Homo sapiens: one gene and its partners. The protein of the gene in region 1 purifies or fractionates together with the protein of each later gene. This does not show direct contact. Each region holds a gene or a part of one and is shown in the gene's direction. Other genes may lie near its edges.

What was found. The genes of interacting proteins can lie anywhere in the genome.
Region 2: the proteins of RIPK4 (region 1) and UBA1 purify together in Homo sapiens (affinity purification with mass spectrometry, with the first as the bait; 2 studies listed by BioGRID). This does not show direct contact.
Region 3: the proteins of RIPK4 (region 1) and PHLDB3 purify together in Homo sapiens (affinity purification with mass spectrometry, with the first as the bait; one large-scale study listed by BioGRID). This does not show direct contact.
Region 4: the proteins of RIPK4 (region 1) and COPB1 purify together in Homo sapiens (affinity purification with mass spectrometry, with the first as the bait; one large-scale study listed by BioGRID). This does not show direct contact.

What each region holds. Positions count from the first base shown.
Region 1 is NC_000021.9:41,760,553-41,764,052, reverse strand, and holds part of RIPK4 (receptor-interacting serine/threonine-protein kinase 4), read left to right. Parts: intron 1-3,500.
Region 2 is NC_000023.11:47,196,829-47,200,328, forward strand, and holds part of UBA1 (ubiquitin-like modifier-activating enzyme 1), read left to right. Parts: exon of another isoform or gene 1-162; coding exon of another isoform or gene 163-196; exon of another isoform or gene 197-1,374; coding exon of another isoform or gene 1,375-1,527; intron 1,528-1,562; exon of another isoform or gene 1,563-1,628; intron 1,629-1,974; coding exon 1,975-2,091; intron 2,092-2,219; coding exon 2,220-2,278; intron 2,279-2,380; coding exon 2,381-2,549; intron 2,550-2,651; coding exon 2,652-2,786; intron 2,787-3,500. UniProt on the Homo sapiens protein: Catalyzes the first step in ubiquitin conjugation to mark cellular proteins for degradation through the ubiquitin-proteasome system.
Region 3 is NC_000019.10:43,480,747-43,484,246, reverse strand, and holds part of PHLDB3 (pleckstrin homology-like domain family B member 3), read left to right. Parts: intron 1-3,500.
Region 4 is NC_000011.10:14,489,812-14,493,311, reverse strand, and holds part of COPB1 (coatomer subunit beta), read left to right. Parts: intron 1-2,632; coding exon 2,633-2,747; intron 2,748-3,500. UniProt on the Homo sapiens protein: The coatomer is a cytosolic protein complex that binds to dilysine motifs and reversibly associates with Golgi non-clathrin-coated vesicles, which further mediate biosynthetic protein transport from the ER, via the Golgi up to the trans Golgi network.

The sequences.
Region 1 (3,500 bases):
TCATGGGGCTCGGTGCCTCGGAGGGTCCTGTGGGGTGGCTTTGGAGAGGCAGCTGGCCTCCCTGGCTGACCCTCATTGTGGGGGTCACAGGGCCTAGGGTGGGGTGTAGGGATGGGTGCTGTGACCAGTTTGGAGAGAATAAAGTGATCCCAAAGGCCCCGTTCCTCCCCTACCAGCCCCCAGCTAAGGGGATGCTCAGAAGAAGCCAGTGCCTGCGGGGCGCCGGCTGGGAGACGCTCCTGCCACATTCAGCCCTGGCTGGTCGGGGCGAGCCTGAGCAAACCCCAGGTTTGTAACAACAGAGCTGACGATTGGACAAGCCCGTTTCTTGTCAGTTTTAAAAATAGCCGTGTGGGAACCCCTCCGAGGCTCCCTGGGAACATAATTGGATTGGTGTGCAGAAGGCCTCGCTGAGAGGCATCAGCTAACAGATGATGAAACACATTTTCCGGCTGCATTTTCCTGAAGGTAGTTGCTAGGTTTCTCCTTCGGAGCTCTTTGTTACCTGAGCGGTCTCACCGTCTCCCCCACCTCCCTGCTTCTCACTTTTCCCTTCGTTTATTGCTTCTCCGCTTGCACAAGACCATGTCCCGGGGCAGTTCTTTCCCCCTTTCCAGGATGCGTGCTTGCAGGGGAAACCGCAGCTGGCCTGGTCCACAGGTCTTTGGAATTTCTGAGCCTGGAGAAGAACCTTGGGACTTCTTTAGAAGTTCCTTTTAGAGATGATTGGTGTGATGATATTTCTCGTATTTCTCGCTACTCCATTGGCCTCCCTGGGAGGGCGAAATACACTTTGGCTAGCCCTAAATGAGGAGAAAACCGAATTCATCTAAGTGCTACTCACCGTATCTTTAAAAAGTTGAACCCCAAGTTAATCCTAATTAATGCCCAGAGATTTTTCATGTGGAACCCAAAACAGGACCCAGGACACTTTTGCGGGGGAGGGGGGGCTTTTCCCGTTCCTGCGTGGAAGCAGAATTAGCAACGCTTTCACCAGCAGCGAAGGAGAGGGGAATAGGATGCCACCCCCTCTGAACTGTGCCTAAGCGTAGCTGCGCTTGGAGCAAGGCACAGTTTTTAGGTTGTGTTTTAATTAACACCGACGAGAGGGGCTTCTGGTCAACCCAGAAACGTTGACTTCACTGTCAACAGTAAGAAATGCGATTTGGAGACGGTGCGAATGTGACTGTGTGATGTTCTGTGCTCCCTGGCCGCCACCCCAGCACCTAGGCTGGATTCGGCATCTCTCCACGTGTTAAAATGATAATAGTAATAAATCTACAGTTCCTTTTGTGTGGTCATCAGAATAAGCCAGAATCATTAAAATAAGCCAGAAACACTGCTTAGGAGAAAAAAATGTATTAAAAAAAATAGTGCCATTGCTCAAAAGCAATTGGTGGGTTCTTTCTGTGCTTCGAGTACCTGAGCACTTCTTAACCTCCCTGATCAGAAAAGCCTCTTCTTGCAGCTTGTTGCAAAGAGGCCCTTTCAGGCTTATTGAATTGCAAATGCCGCCGGGCGACACCCGACCCCAGAAGGGCTGGAGCTTCCTAAAGCCGCTGGAGTTTCCCAGATGTGCGCCTAGGGAGCACCTGGAGAGGGGCTGGAAGGCGGGGTCGTGTGGGTTTTGGCCCAGTGGTTACTGGATGGTAAACAGTGTGGAAAGTTTCTGAGGACATGCTGGTGCTTCTGAGCGAAATCCAGGCTGGTAGGCAAGGGAGCCGCCCCACCCCCACTCCTGGGCCTCAGATCTCCCACAGGGCGGTCCCGGGACCCCCTTCCTCAGCTGGAATCCTGTCTACCCCAAGCCAGTTTGGATCATGCTGTCACAACACTTTTGTCCACGGAAACAATGACTTTTTTTTTCCAGGACAGCTGATTTTCCTCGAGAAAGTGCCCTCAAATGTGTGGCCCATGGAAGGGGGAAGTCGTGCCGGGCTCCCTTCAGGCAGTTGCGCAAAGCTGGGGTGGACTCCGTTAGGAGATTCTAGCCGGGATCCGCTTTCAGGAGCCAACTAGCAGCAGTGGCCCTTTTTTGTTTGTTTGTTGTTTCTTTTAAAGTAAGGTAAATGGGGTCTCCGTTCTGCAGAAAGAGCCCGGGGCAGGGAGAGTAAAGTACTTGCTGAACTCGGTGCGCTGGGGAGGGGTGTGCACTGCTGCCAGCCCGTAGCTGTTAGAGTCGCCAATGAGCTCACTCTGCAATCAGAAGTCACCGGGGTTTTATGTATTAAGCCCTTTGGGCAAATAAAAGAAAACACTATTTGTGGAGTGGCTCAGAGCTTCCACTTAATAAGCTACTCAGCCTTCCTTTGATTGACATTGTTCTCAGAATACGTGTTTATTATCAGTCAGCTTTGGCTTAGAGAGTTCACTCTCAGAATGTCTACTTAATGTGGAAAAATGACCCTTGCGAATGGCTGGCCTCTAAACACCCGAATTGTCATTTCCTCAAAACCCTCCGGCGAGGAGGGTGTGCCTCACACGGTTGCACAGTGGATGTGGGTCTGAGTCCTACGGAAGGACTTTCGCCAGCGCCCCGGGGCAGAGTGTCCGGAGGAGGGAGGCCACACTGGTAGGGGAGGGGCGGCAAGCTGGCCACATTTGAGCAATCGGAAACAGACAAATCATAACTCTGATTCTTAACAAGACATAAAAGAGAAGCAGCAGCTGGTACCATGTCCCAGTCCGATGGTTTGGAAGTTAGTGGCAGTTGCCGGGTTGGAAGTTGTGCTGGTATTCCTTTAAATAACAAATGAGGGCCTCAGCCAACCGGTGTTCCCAGAGGAGGAGAAAGGCTGGGAGCTGAGAGGTGTCATTTTCCTTCTTTGGTGACCGGTTTCATTTTAGCTGATGCTTGACGTTGGCATCAGGTCCTCGTCTTCCTTTTTTCCCAATGCTCACTGAGACTGGGGACAGGGTTGAGAGTCCCACGATCTGATCTGCACCCCCCATCCCTTGATGGGTCCCAGAGCCTGGCCCAAGCCTGTGGCTGCAGGGAGAGGGATTTCCCCTGGAGAGGGAGGAAGCAGCCGATGGTATGCTGGTGATGGGGCAGCTTTCAGCTCAGCCCAGGGACCCCCACAGGCTAGCACTGCACACTGGTGGGCATCTTGTTTTCCATTAGTTGGTCATTTAACCAGAGCGCTAGGAAAGCAGGCCGTGCTCCCCTAAGTTTTGTCTCATAATAATTTCACGTTCATTCCTGATACTTGCTTCACTTGTTCCCAAGGCCAGTGGGATTCTTTGCTCCTTGAGTGTATTCAGACACACTCGACCTGCCCACCCCCCACACCCCCCAGCTGCTCCTCCTGGGGTGCTCCCGCGTCCACCGTAGAGAGCTGCCTAGTGACCCCTGGTGCAGCTCCAGAGAGGTCCTGCAAGCTTCTCCCCTCCACATGCAGTCAATGGACCCATCCTGCAGATTCTTCCAACAGAGTGTGTGTGCTCTGCTGGCTTCCCCTCTCTGCTTTGCCAAGCCCAAGGGGATCCACAGCGACTGC
Region 2 (3,500 bases), on another chromosome or scaffold:
AATGACAAGGCAAGGAGATAACTAAGTAATAGAGGCCACTACACGTGCCCAGGGAGGAACTCACATCCTCAGGTCAGTGAGTTCTGACCACAGACCTTGGCTTCTTTAACCCTGCCAGCAGCCCCTTGAAGACAGTTTCATTTGTCCCAGCTTTTGGAGAAAATGAGGCTCAGAGGAAATGAGATCTCTACCCCAGGTCAGTCAGAGAGTCAGTAAATGGAAAATATGGTTCACCTTTGTCTCTACTAACTCACCAAGCCTCTTGCTACCCAGGTTGGCTCTTAGCATTCTAAGCAATTCACCTGGCTATCTCAGGGGCTCCAGCCAGCCTGCTGCCTCCCCTCATCTCCCATTCCTTAGCCCTGTGGACTGGGCCCTGAGCCCAGGGGCATTTGGCAAACAGTCCCCCACCAGCTGCATGCCTCTGGGCGAGTGAATGGGGTTCTCTAAGCCTTTCTTTTCCCATTTGTGATTTGGGCATAGGGTTATCTGGGTCATGGGGATTGTTAAGATTAGACAAAGCCCTTTCCTCTTTGATTGACACACAGTATGCTCTTGGTAGATAGTAGGGAGCTCTTGTCATTGTGGTTGGTGCTAGTGACAAGTGCCAAGATGGAATCTTAGGTACATTGGGATACTTAGTGTCATAAAAGTCTCAGTGTGGGAGGACTTGTGTGAACAGAAGACTCAGTGCCTAGAGGAGCACTTGGGGTGAGGGGAAGTGACGCTGGGTCCTCCCATCTCCAGCATGTGGACCCAGTCACCCCCACCACCAGATTTCACTTCCACAGCAGGCTTTATTGTTCTGTCTCTGGGACCTAGCAGGTGACCCTGGGCAAGTTACTTCTCATTTGTCCGGCAAGGACACTAAACTCTGCCTTGCTGGGTCAGGGTCATGGAGGGGATGAAACGTGATAACACGAGGAAGCAGCCTGGGCTTCAGAGTCAGCAGATCCTGGTCTGGTCCCAGCTCAGTGTGTGGGAACCTTGGTCACCGAACGTCCCTGAGTGAATTTTTTTCCATCACTTTAAAGTTGGGGGTATTATTGATAGCAGTCCAAACCCCACAGGAGTACCCTGAGGACAGAGTGAGACGAGGTTTAGAGAAGTGCTTACTATGGCATCTGGCACAAGGAGGACTCCTGATCAATCTAATACTCATTTATCATTGTGGTTAACCTGTTTAAGGGACTCCGCATGCAGATGAGGCTTGGGATGTGTTTGTTTTCTATCTTTTTGCAACCTCTTTTATTGGTCTGTGTCGGTTTTCCCCTCCCAAAGCTGGGGGCAGGGTTGGGCTTTATAAAACTTGAGCCCCTCTGGGGACTGGGTTCTCAGCAAGTTACCGCTCCTGCCATCATGCCACCCTGATGGATGTCCAAGCCTCACTTCCCTCCTGCACTCCCCGCTCCCGCCGCCATCCCTGGGATTAAGGGAGAGGAGAATGGCTGCTTGTTACTGCCTACCTACTCTGTGCCAGGTTCTATGCTCTGTGTTATTTATCATCTCGATAACCCCGTGGGGAAGGTAAGTGGTATTATCACCCCTGTTTCACAGGTGAGAAAACTGAGGCCTGTGGCGGTTAATTATTACTGTTAGTGCGTGGCAGGCTCAAGATTTGAAACCAGGTCTGTCCTGAATCCACATCCTTCCCCTGACCTCGACACAAGTACATTCTTGTCATTCCTTTCACTCCAGGATTGGAGTCTCTCCCTCATTATGCTGGGCTGGGAAGAAGCAAATGGCTTAGTGGTCAGCAGTGTGGATTTGCAAATCAGACCACCTGGGTTCAGATCTTAGGTCTGACAGCTGTGTTACCCTGGGCAAGTCCTCACCTTTCTGTGCCTGTCCCCTCTTTGCTGTAAAATGGGGGTACTAATACTTAAGTCTTCCCTTCCCCCACAGTTGCTACTAACAAACAGAAAAACGGTACCCATGTGCTCCAGGGTCACCTCTGACCTTTTTTTCCTCCAGATGTCCAGCTCGCCGCTGTCCAAGAAACGTCGCGTGTCCGGGCCTGATCCAAAGCCGGGTTCTAACTGCTCCCCTGCCCAGTCCGTGTTGTCCGAAGTGCCCTCGGTGCCAACCAACGTGAGTGTCCTCTCCGTGGAGACTGGCAGACGAGGTGGTGGGTGGGAAAGTCTTTTGTATCACTGTCTGTCTATCCATGCTCCACTCCTGTGTGTCTCCCTAAACTTGTTCTTTTCCTCTATTCCTAGGGAATGGCCAAGAACGGCAGTGAAGCAGACATAGACGAGGGCCTTTACTCCCGGCAGCTGTAAGTGGGGCCAAGGCCGGGCTGAGGGGTGTGGAATGGGACATTGAGAGGATAAGGTTGGGTGGGGCAGGCCCTGACCTAGAGTACCCCCTAACCTGGCAGGTATGTGTTGGGCCATGAGGCAATGAAGCGGCTCCAGACATCCAGTGTCCTGGTATCAGGCCTGCGGGGCCTGGGCGTGGAGATCGCTAAGAACATCATCCTTGGTGGGGTCAAGGCTGTTACCCTACATGACCAGGGCACTGCCCAGTGGGCTGATCTTTCCTCCCAGGTACCTCTTCCTAGCACCCTTCCCCCTTTCCCCCTTCCCGAGGCACCACTGTTCCCGGTGCCACAGCCATTTCATCTTTTTCCCTACTGCACACCCTTACAGTTCTACCTGCGGGAGGAGGACATCGGTAAAAACCGGGCCGAGGTATCACAGCCCCGCCTCGCTGAGCTCAACAGCTATGTGCCTGTCACTGCCTACACTGGACCCCTCGTTGAGGACTTCCTTAGTGGTTTCCAGGTATCTTGGGGGTACTACCCAGCCTTCTGCCCAGTTTTCTCAGAGCCCATCTCTGGTTTATTCAGTAGTGTTCAATATTGATTTAATGGGTCGGCCTGAATGTCAGGTTTTGTGCTGGGGGACTAGAGTATGCAGGCAGCAGTTAGCCCCTGGCCCTGCCTTTTCTTTTCTTCTTTTTTTTTTTTTGAGACGGAGTCTTGCTCTGTCGCCCAAGCTAGAGTGCAGTGGCGCGATCTCGGCTCACTGCAAGCTACACCTCCTGGGTTCACGCCATTCTCCTGCCTCAGCCTCCCGAGTAGCTGGGACTACAGGCGCCTGCCACCACGCCCGGCTAATTTTTTTTTGTATTTTTAGTAGAGACGGGGTTTCACTGTGTTAGCCAGGGTGGTCTCGATCTCCTGACCTTGTGATCCGCCCGCCTCCGCCTCCCAAAGTGCTGGGATTACAGGTGTGAGCCACCGCACCCGGCCTGGCCCCGCCTTTTCAAGTGGGGAAGATGTGTACAGACAGTACAGCATAGTGGTTGTGGGCACAGACTGTAGAGCCATACTGCCTTGCTGCAGGCCTCCAGCCTTGGTAGTGTGACTTCAAGCAGGTTGTTTCATCTCCTGTACCTTTGTTTTCCTGTTTGTAGTCAGTGCGTGGTAGCAGCACTGACTTCATGGACTTTTTGTGAGGGTTAAACACGTGGAATTGCAGCTGGCATATAAGGAC
Region 3 (3,500 bases), on another chromosome or scaffold:
TGGAGTCTCACTTTGTTGCCCAAGCTGGAGTGCAGTATTACAATCTCGGCTCACTGCAATCTCCGCCTCCAGGGTTCAAGCGATTCTCCCGCCTCAGCCTCTGGAGTAGCTAGGATTACAGGCGCCCACCACCATGCCTGGCTAATTTTGTATTTATAGTAGAGACGGGGTTTCACCATGTTGGCCAGGCTGGTTTTGAACTCCTGACCTCAGGTGATCCACCCGCTTTGGCCTCCCAAAGTGCTGGCATTACAGGCATGAGCTACCGTGCCTGGCCTTGTTTTCCATTTTTAACAGTAGAGACACTATGTTGGCCAGGCTGGTATTGAATTCCTGGCCTCGAGCCTCCCTTCTGGCCAAAGTGCTGAGATTATAGGCCTGAACCATCATGCCTGACCTAAAATATCTTTTCACAGTTGATTTATTTGAATCTATATGCAAAGCACACGCTATGCATTTGGTTTAATGTCTCTTAAATCTTTTAATCTCTAACAGTTCTGCCTCCCCATTAAAGAAAATGCTATTTATTTGTGGAAATAATCAAATAATTTATCCTGTTGACTTTTTCACATTCTTGATTTAGCTGACAACTCCCTTACATAAATTACATTTTTGCCTATACTAATAACATTCATAGAATCAATGCGTTTTGTTATAAAGAATGATAAAGCTAGGCACCATAGCTCACGCCTATAATCTCAGCACTTTGAGAGGCCGAGGTGGGAGGATCACTTGAGTCCCGGAGCTGGAGAACAGCCTGGGCAACATAGTCAGACCCTCATCTCTACAGAAATTTAAAAAATTAGCAGGTGTGGTGGTGCATGCCTTTGGTCCCAGCTACTCGGGAAAAGGCTAAGGTGGGAGGATTGCTTGAGCCCAGTGGGTGGAGGCTGCAGTGAGCTATAATCGCCCCACTGCACTCCAGCTTCAGTGACAGAGTGAGACCCTGCCTCAAAAAAAAAAAAGAATGATAGATAAAGTATTAAGAAAGTGGTCACTTTCTTCCTGATCTCACTTCTACTGCTGAGAAGCCTTCAAATCTGTGTTTATACTTTTCCACATGCACCAGTCAAGCCATATTTTGTGAATTTGTCTCATAAATAAGCACATCCTTCCCAACCTTTTTGTTTTTACCACCATTTGTCCTTCCCTTATTCATTTCAGCCCATATTTATTGAGTGCCTACTGTGTGCTAGACCCTGGGTCATAGCAGTGACCAAGATAACAATCCCCACCTTTGGGGGAAGCTGATGTTTTAAGGGGGAAGATGGACACAAAGCAACATCAATATGTAAAATAAATAGCATGTCAGAGGCTGATAAGAGCCAGGGAGCAAAATAAGGCAGGAACGGCAGTGGGGTCTTCTGCATTGTTAGGCATAAGCTTGTGCTCATTAAAAACGAAGCACAGGCCAGGCGTGGTGGCTCACGCCTGTAATCCCAGCATTTTGGGAGGCTGAGGTGGGCAGATCACCTGAGGTCAGGAGTTCGAGACCAGCCTGACCAACATGGAGAAACCCCGTCTCTACTGAAAATACAAAAATCATCTGGGCGTGGTGGCATGTGCCTATAGTCACAGCTACCCGAGAGGCTGAGGCAGGAGAATCGCTTGAACTGGGAAGCAGAGGTTGCAATGAGCCAAGATCACACCACTGCTCTCCAGCCTGGGTGACAGAGCGAGACTCTGTCTCAAAACAAACAAACAAACAAACAAACAGAATTGCTCCTGCTCTGGTGTTCTGCCTGGCTTCTAGCATCATCATTTATTAAACAGTCCCCTGCTGTGTGCTTTGTCCCCTGCCGTACACCCCTGCTATCTTTTGTGCACGTGAGCAAGTGTGTCCCTGGGCTTCACACCTAGAAGAGGAACCTCTAGGTGAGAGACCCTGAGGGCAGCCAGCTCATCCTTGAAACAGCCCCAGAGGAGAGTGCTGTGATAACCCTGGTGTTTTAGCATAGGGAACTGAGGCTCCCAGAGGGGCAGGAGTTCTGTGGAGGTGACACAGCCGGGCAGTGGTGGAGTCCCAAGCCCATCCCTGGTCTCCTCCTAGATTGGGGCCCAGCTCCCCTACATCCTAGTTTGGTGACCTTGGAGAGTCACCTCTTCTTAAAGCCTCAGTTTCTTGATCTGTCTAGCAGGAACATTAATGGGTTCTTTTGGAGAAGAAACGAGGTAATCACAGTGACCACTTGGCATAGTGCCTGACACAGAGCGGGAGCTTCCACACACAGTGGTGATCCTTGGTCTTTCTGTGTGGATTTGGGGAGATTGCAGGCCCAGCGGGTACTCTTTAAACCTGGCCTTTCCCTCCCTTCCTTTCCCTCCTCCCTAATCCTTCTCATTTCCCCACCTCACTCTCCTGTCTCCAACCAGCAGATCTCATCTCTGTTTCTCATCCCTTCTTGCTCTGGCCTTGCTTCAGTTTTCTTTCTTTTCTTTCTTTTTTTTTTTTTGAGACATGGTCTCCCTTTGTCACCCAGCCTGGAGTGCCGTGGTGTGATCTCGGCTCACTGCAACCCCCACCTCCTGGGCTCAAGCGATCCTCCCACCTCAGCCTCCTAATTAGCCGGGATCCTAGGCACACACCACCATGCCTGGCTAATGTTTGTATTTTTGTATTTTTTTTTTGAGATGGAGTTTCGCTCTTGTTGCCAAGGCTGGAGTGCAATGGTGCCATCTTGATTCACCGCAACCTCCACCTCCCGAGTTCAAGCGATTCTCCTGCCTCAGCCTCCTGAGTAGCTGGGATTACAGGCATGCGCCACCACGCCTGGCTAATTTTGTATTTTCAGCAGAGACAGGGTTTCTCCATGTTGGTCAGGCTGGTCTCAAACTCCCAACCTCAGGTGATCCCCCCACCTTGGCTTCCCAAAGTGCTGGGATTGTAGGCGTGAGCCACCACGCCCAGCCTAATTTTTGTATTTTTTGTAGAGACGGGGTTTCGCCATGTTGCCCCAGGCTGGTCTCAAACTCCTGGGTTTAAGTGATCCTCCCCTCTTGGCCTCCCAAAGTGCTGGGATTACACGTGTGAGCCACCGCACCCATCCTGCTTCAGTTTTCTAACTCCTTGACACTCAAAGTGTGGCTGGTGGAACAGCAGCATCAGGGCCCACCTGGGAGCTTGTCAGACATGCAGAACCTCTCCCCCTACTCCAGACTCCACCCTGAAATGACTGAATCAGAGTCTGCATTTTAACATTTTAACAAAATCCCCAGCGGATCTGCTTGCATGAAGAAATCTGAGATGTACTACCCTGAACCTCAGTTTGACCTCCGGAATCATACCACTGTTTGCAGGGATTATTTGGGAAGAATAGGTTGGATCAGACCAGCTCATGGTCAGGCTCTCATAAATAGTGGACACTTGTATTGCCTTAAATCCTCCTCCCCAACCTGTATGACCATCTGAGGTGACCACTCTACCTGGTGAGTCCTGGCTCTGTCAGCTCTGGCTGTGTGACTTGTGCCGAGTGACTTAACCTCTCTGAGTCTTGGTTTCC
Region 4 (3,500 bases), on another chromosome or scaffold:
TAACTTTGGTCCTTGTTTTAGAATTCGTTTTGTGGAATGTCGGTCTTTTTACTGTCAGAAGCTTTGAGGAAGGAACTTTTTAAATGAGAAGGGCTACAGTTATAACTGAGTCCAATTCTTAGAAAGCTGAAGATTTTGAATTTTTATTTGTTTTTGTTTTGTTTTGAGATGGAGTTCCACTCTCGTTGCCCAGGCTGGAGCACAGTGGCGCGATCTCGGCTCACAACAACCTCCACCTCCCGGATTCAAGTGATTCTCCTGCCTCAGCCTCCCAAGTAGCTGGGATTACAGGCACCCACCACCACGCCCAGCCAATTTTTGTATTTTTAGTAGATATGGGGTTTCACCATGTTGGCCAGGCTGGTCTCGAACTCCTGACCTCAAGTGTTCCACTCGCCTTGGCCTCCCAAAGTGCTGGGATTGTAGGTGCAGGCTGCCACGCCCGGCTGAGATTTTGGATTTTTAAACCAATTTAAGGAACCAGTTAGATGAAGCTAGAATGCTCAGTTTTTACAGTCACAGGTATCAATTTATTAAGGACTACAATGTAATTTTTATAAGCATCTTTGTACTTTAGTAGATTTGTTGGTTAAGATATAATTTCATAGTTATCTTACTGTTAGATTTTATCCATTAAGGAAAGTGGTATTCTGGTTAATAATGTAGATGAGCCAGGCGTGGTGGCTCATGCCTGTAATCCCAGCACTTTGGGAGGCCGAGGCGGGCCGATAACCTGAGGTCGGGAGTTCGAGACCAGCCTGACCAACATGGAGAAACCCCGTCTCTACTAAAAATACAAAATTAGCTGGGCGTGGTGGCACATGCCTGTAGTCCTAGCTACTCAGGAGGCTGAAGCAGAAGAATTGCTCGAACCTGGGAGGCAGAGGTTGCGATGAACCGAGATCGCGCTATTGCACTCTAGCCTGGGCAACAAAACCAAAACTCCATCTCAAAAAATAATAATAAAAATAATAATAATAATAATAATGTAGGGTGAGTTCCTTTAATGTTACCATACAGACTACACAAATTTCAGAATTTAAACTATAGTGCACATAGAAAAATTAGGCCATTTATAGGACAATTGGAAATGTGAACACTATGTCTTGATATTAGGAAATTATTAATTTTGTGAGGTGTGATGATGAATAATTAGTTTTGCAAGTAAAGAGTCCTTGATTTTAGAGAAACCTACCAATATATTTACAGAAGAAAGGATACATTGCCTGTGATTTGCTTCAAAATAATATGGCAAGAGGTAAATTTGGCAAGGATATAGATGAAACAAAACTAGCTATGAATTATAATTGTTGAAGCAAGGTGATGGATTTTATTAAGCTAGTGTTCACTCTTCTCTGTACTAATATTTCTAAATTTCCAAAAGAAGAGGCAAGTCAGTAAGCAAATAGTACACAACTAATAAAATTCAAGGGACTATGTTTTTCCTCTTAATGTAATTCTTAATATATTGATATGCTTAAAATGTATGCACAACAGTTATTAGAGACATTGGTTAACAGATGGTGTGTTGAATAAATCAGCTTTTTCTGTATTGAACTAGAAAACGTATAATTTGATAATTTAATAGATGAAGGTATAACTTTGTGTTTCCTTCTACCAGTTCCTTTTTTTTTTTTTTTTTGAGACAGAGTTTCACTCTTGTCGCCCAGGCTCGAGTGCAATGGCACGATCTCAGCTTACTGCAGCCTCCACCTCCCAGGTTCAAGCAATTCTCCTGCCTCAGCCTCCCAAGTAGCTAGGATTACAGGCATGCGCTACCACGCCTGGCTAATTTTGTATTTTTAGTAGAGATGGAGTTTCTCCATGTTGGTCAGGCTCATCTCAAACTCCCACCCTCAGGTGATCCGCCCACCTGGGCCTCTCAAAGTGCTGGGATTACAGGTGTGAGCCACTGCGCCCGGCTCCTTCTCCCAGTTCTAATTGATTTGAAGTTTCAAAAAGCAGGCCGGGCGTGGTGGTTCATGTCTGTAATCCCAGCACTTTGGGAAGCCGAGGTGGGTGGATCACTCGAGGTCAGGAATATGAGACAAGCCTGGCCAACGTGGCAAAATGCTGTCTCTACTAAAAAAATAACAAAAATTAGCCTGGCATGGTGGCACGTGCCTGTAGTCCCAGATACTCAGGAGGCTGAGGCAGGAGAATCACTCGACCTAGAAGGCGGAGGTTGCAGTAAGCCGAGATCACTCCACTGCACTCTAGCCTTGTCTGGGCACGGTGGCTCACACCTGTAATCCCAGCACTTTGGAGGCCAAGGTGGGCAAATCATGAGGTCAGGAGTTCAAGACCAGCCTGGCCAACATGGTGAAACCCCATCCCTACTAAAAATACAAAAAATTAGCTGGGCATAGTGGTGGGCACCTATAATCGCAGCTACTCGGGAGGCTGAGGCAGGAGAATTGCTTGAACCCTGGAAGTGGAGGCAGCAGTGAGCTGAGATCGCACCACTGCACTCCAGCCCAGGCAACAGAGTGAGACTCTGTCTCCAAAAAAAAAAAAAAGCAAAAGTATGTTGTAAAGTTTGATTAAATTTAATTTTGGTATTGTCCAGAGAGTTACTAAAATAGTAAAGTAGGCTTTTATTAAATATGGATGTTACCTGTTTTATTTAAAGAAATTTTGAACATCTTATACCTGATGCTCCTGAACTGATACATGATTTTCTGGTGAATGAGAAGGATGCAAGTTGCAAAAGGAATGCATTTATGATGCTAATTCATGCAGATCAGGTGAGGTACTTTTTAAAAAATACTCTTATTACTGTATTTAAGTGACAATTGAAAGTATTACATAGACTTAATCATGTTTTTAGTCAGTAATTTTGTTTATAGTTCATGTGGTTTGTGTATTTTGAAATTTTTAAGCTTGTAGAAAAATACATTTTTTTCTTAACCCTTCTCTAAAATATTGCATATGTATACATTCTTTTTTCAATTAAACATTGAAGAGGCATTTTAGAGCAGCCACCCTACAGTTTTTAAAAATTAAAATTATTATGACTGTTCTTTCCTATGATGGTATAGATCTAAAATTGTTTAGTAGAGAAAAATAGTAGCTTTGCATAGATACATCCTTAGCCATGCCTGTGGAAATAGGGTGGCCTTCAGTGTAGAGGTGTATCCTTTTAGGTTCTTCAACTTTCATACACGGGTGCCAACTCCACATCCTGCTCTGCTGGTGGTTAAAGTACATGGATCTACTTTTGGTTAGCAATTACTCTGTACACCTTGATGCCATCTAATCTTGAAATTTTCTAGCCAGTATTTATCACCAAAATATGGGAAATAATATGCATGAAGTCTGAAAAATATGGAGGCCTTCCAGTCCTCTGAAATCTAGACACTGTGACTTTTTTCCCCCAGATCTTCCTTTAATGGATTGTCCCCCAGTTATTTAAAATTGTGGTAACATACACATAACAAAAAAATTTACCCTCTTAACCATTTTTAAGTGTTCAATGATTTTAAATACATTTATAATGT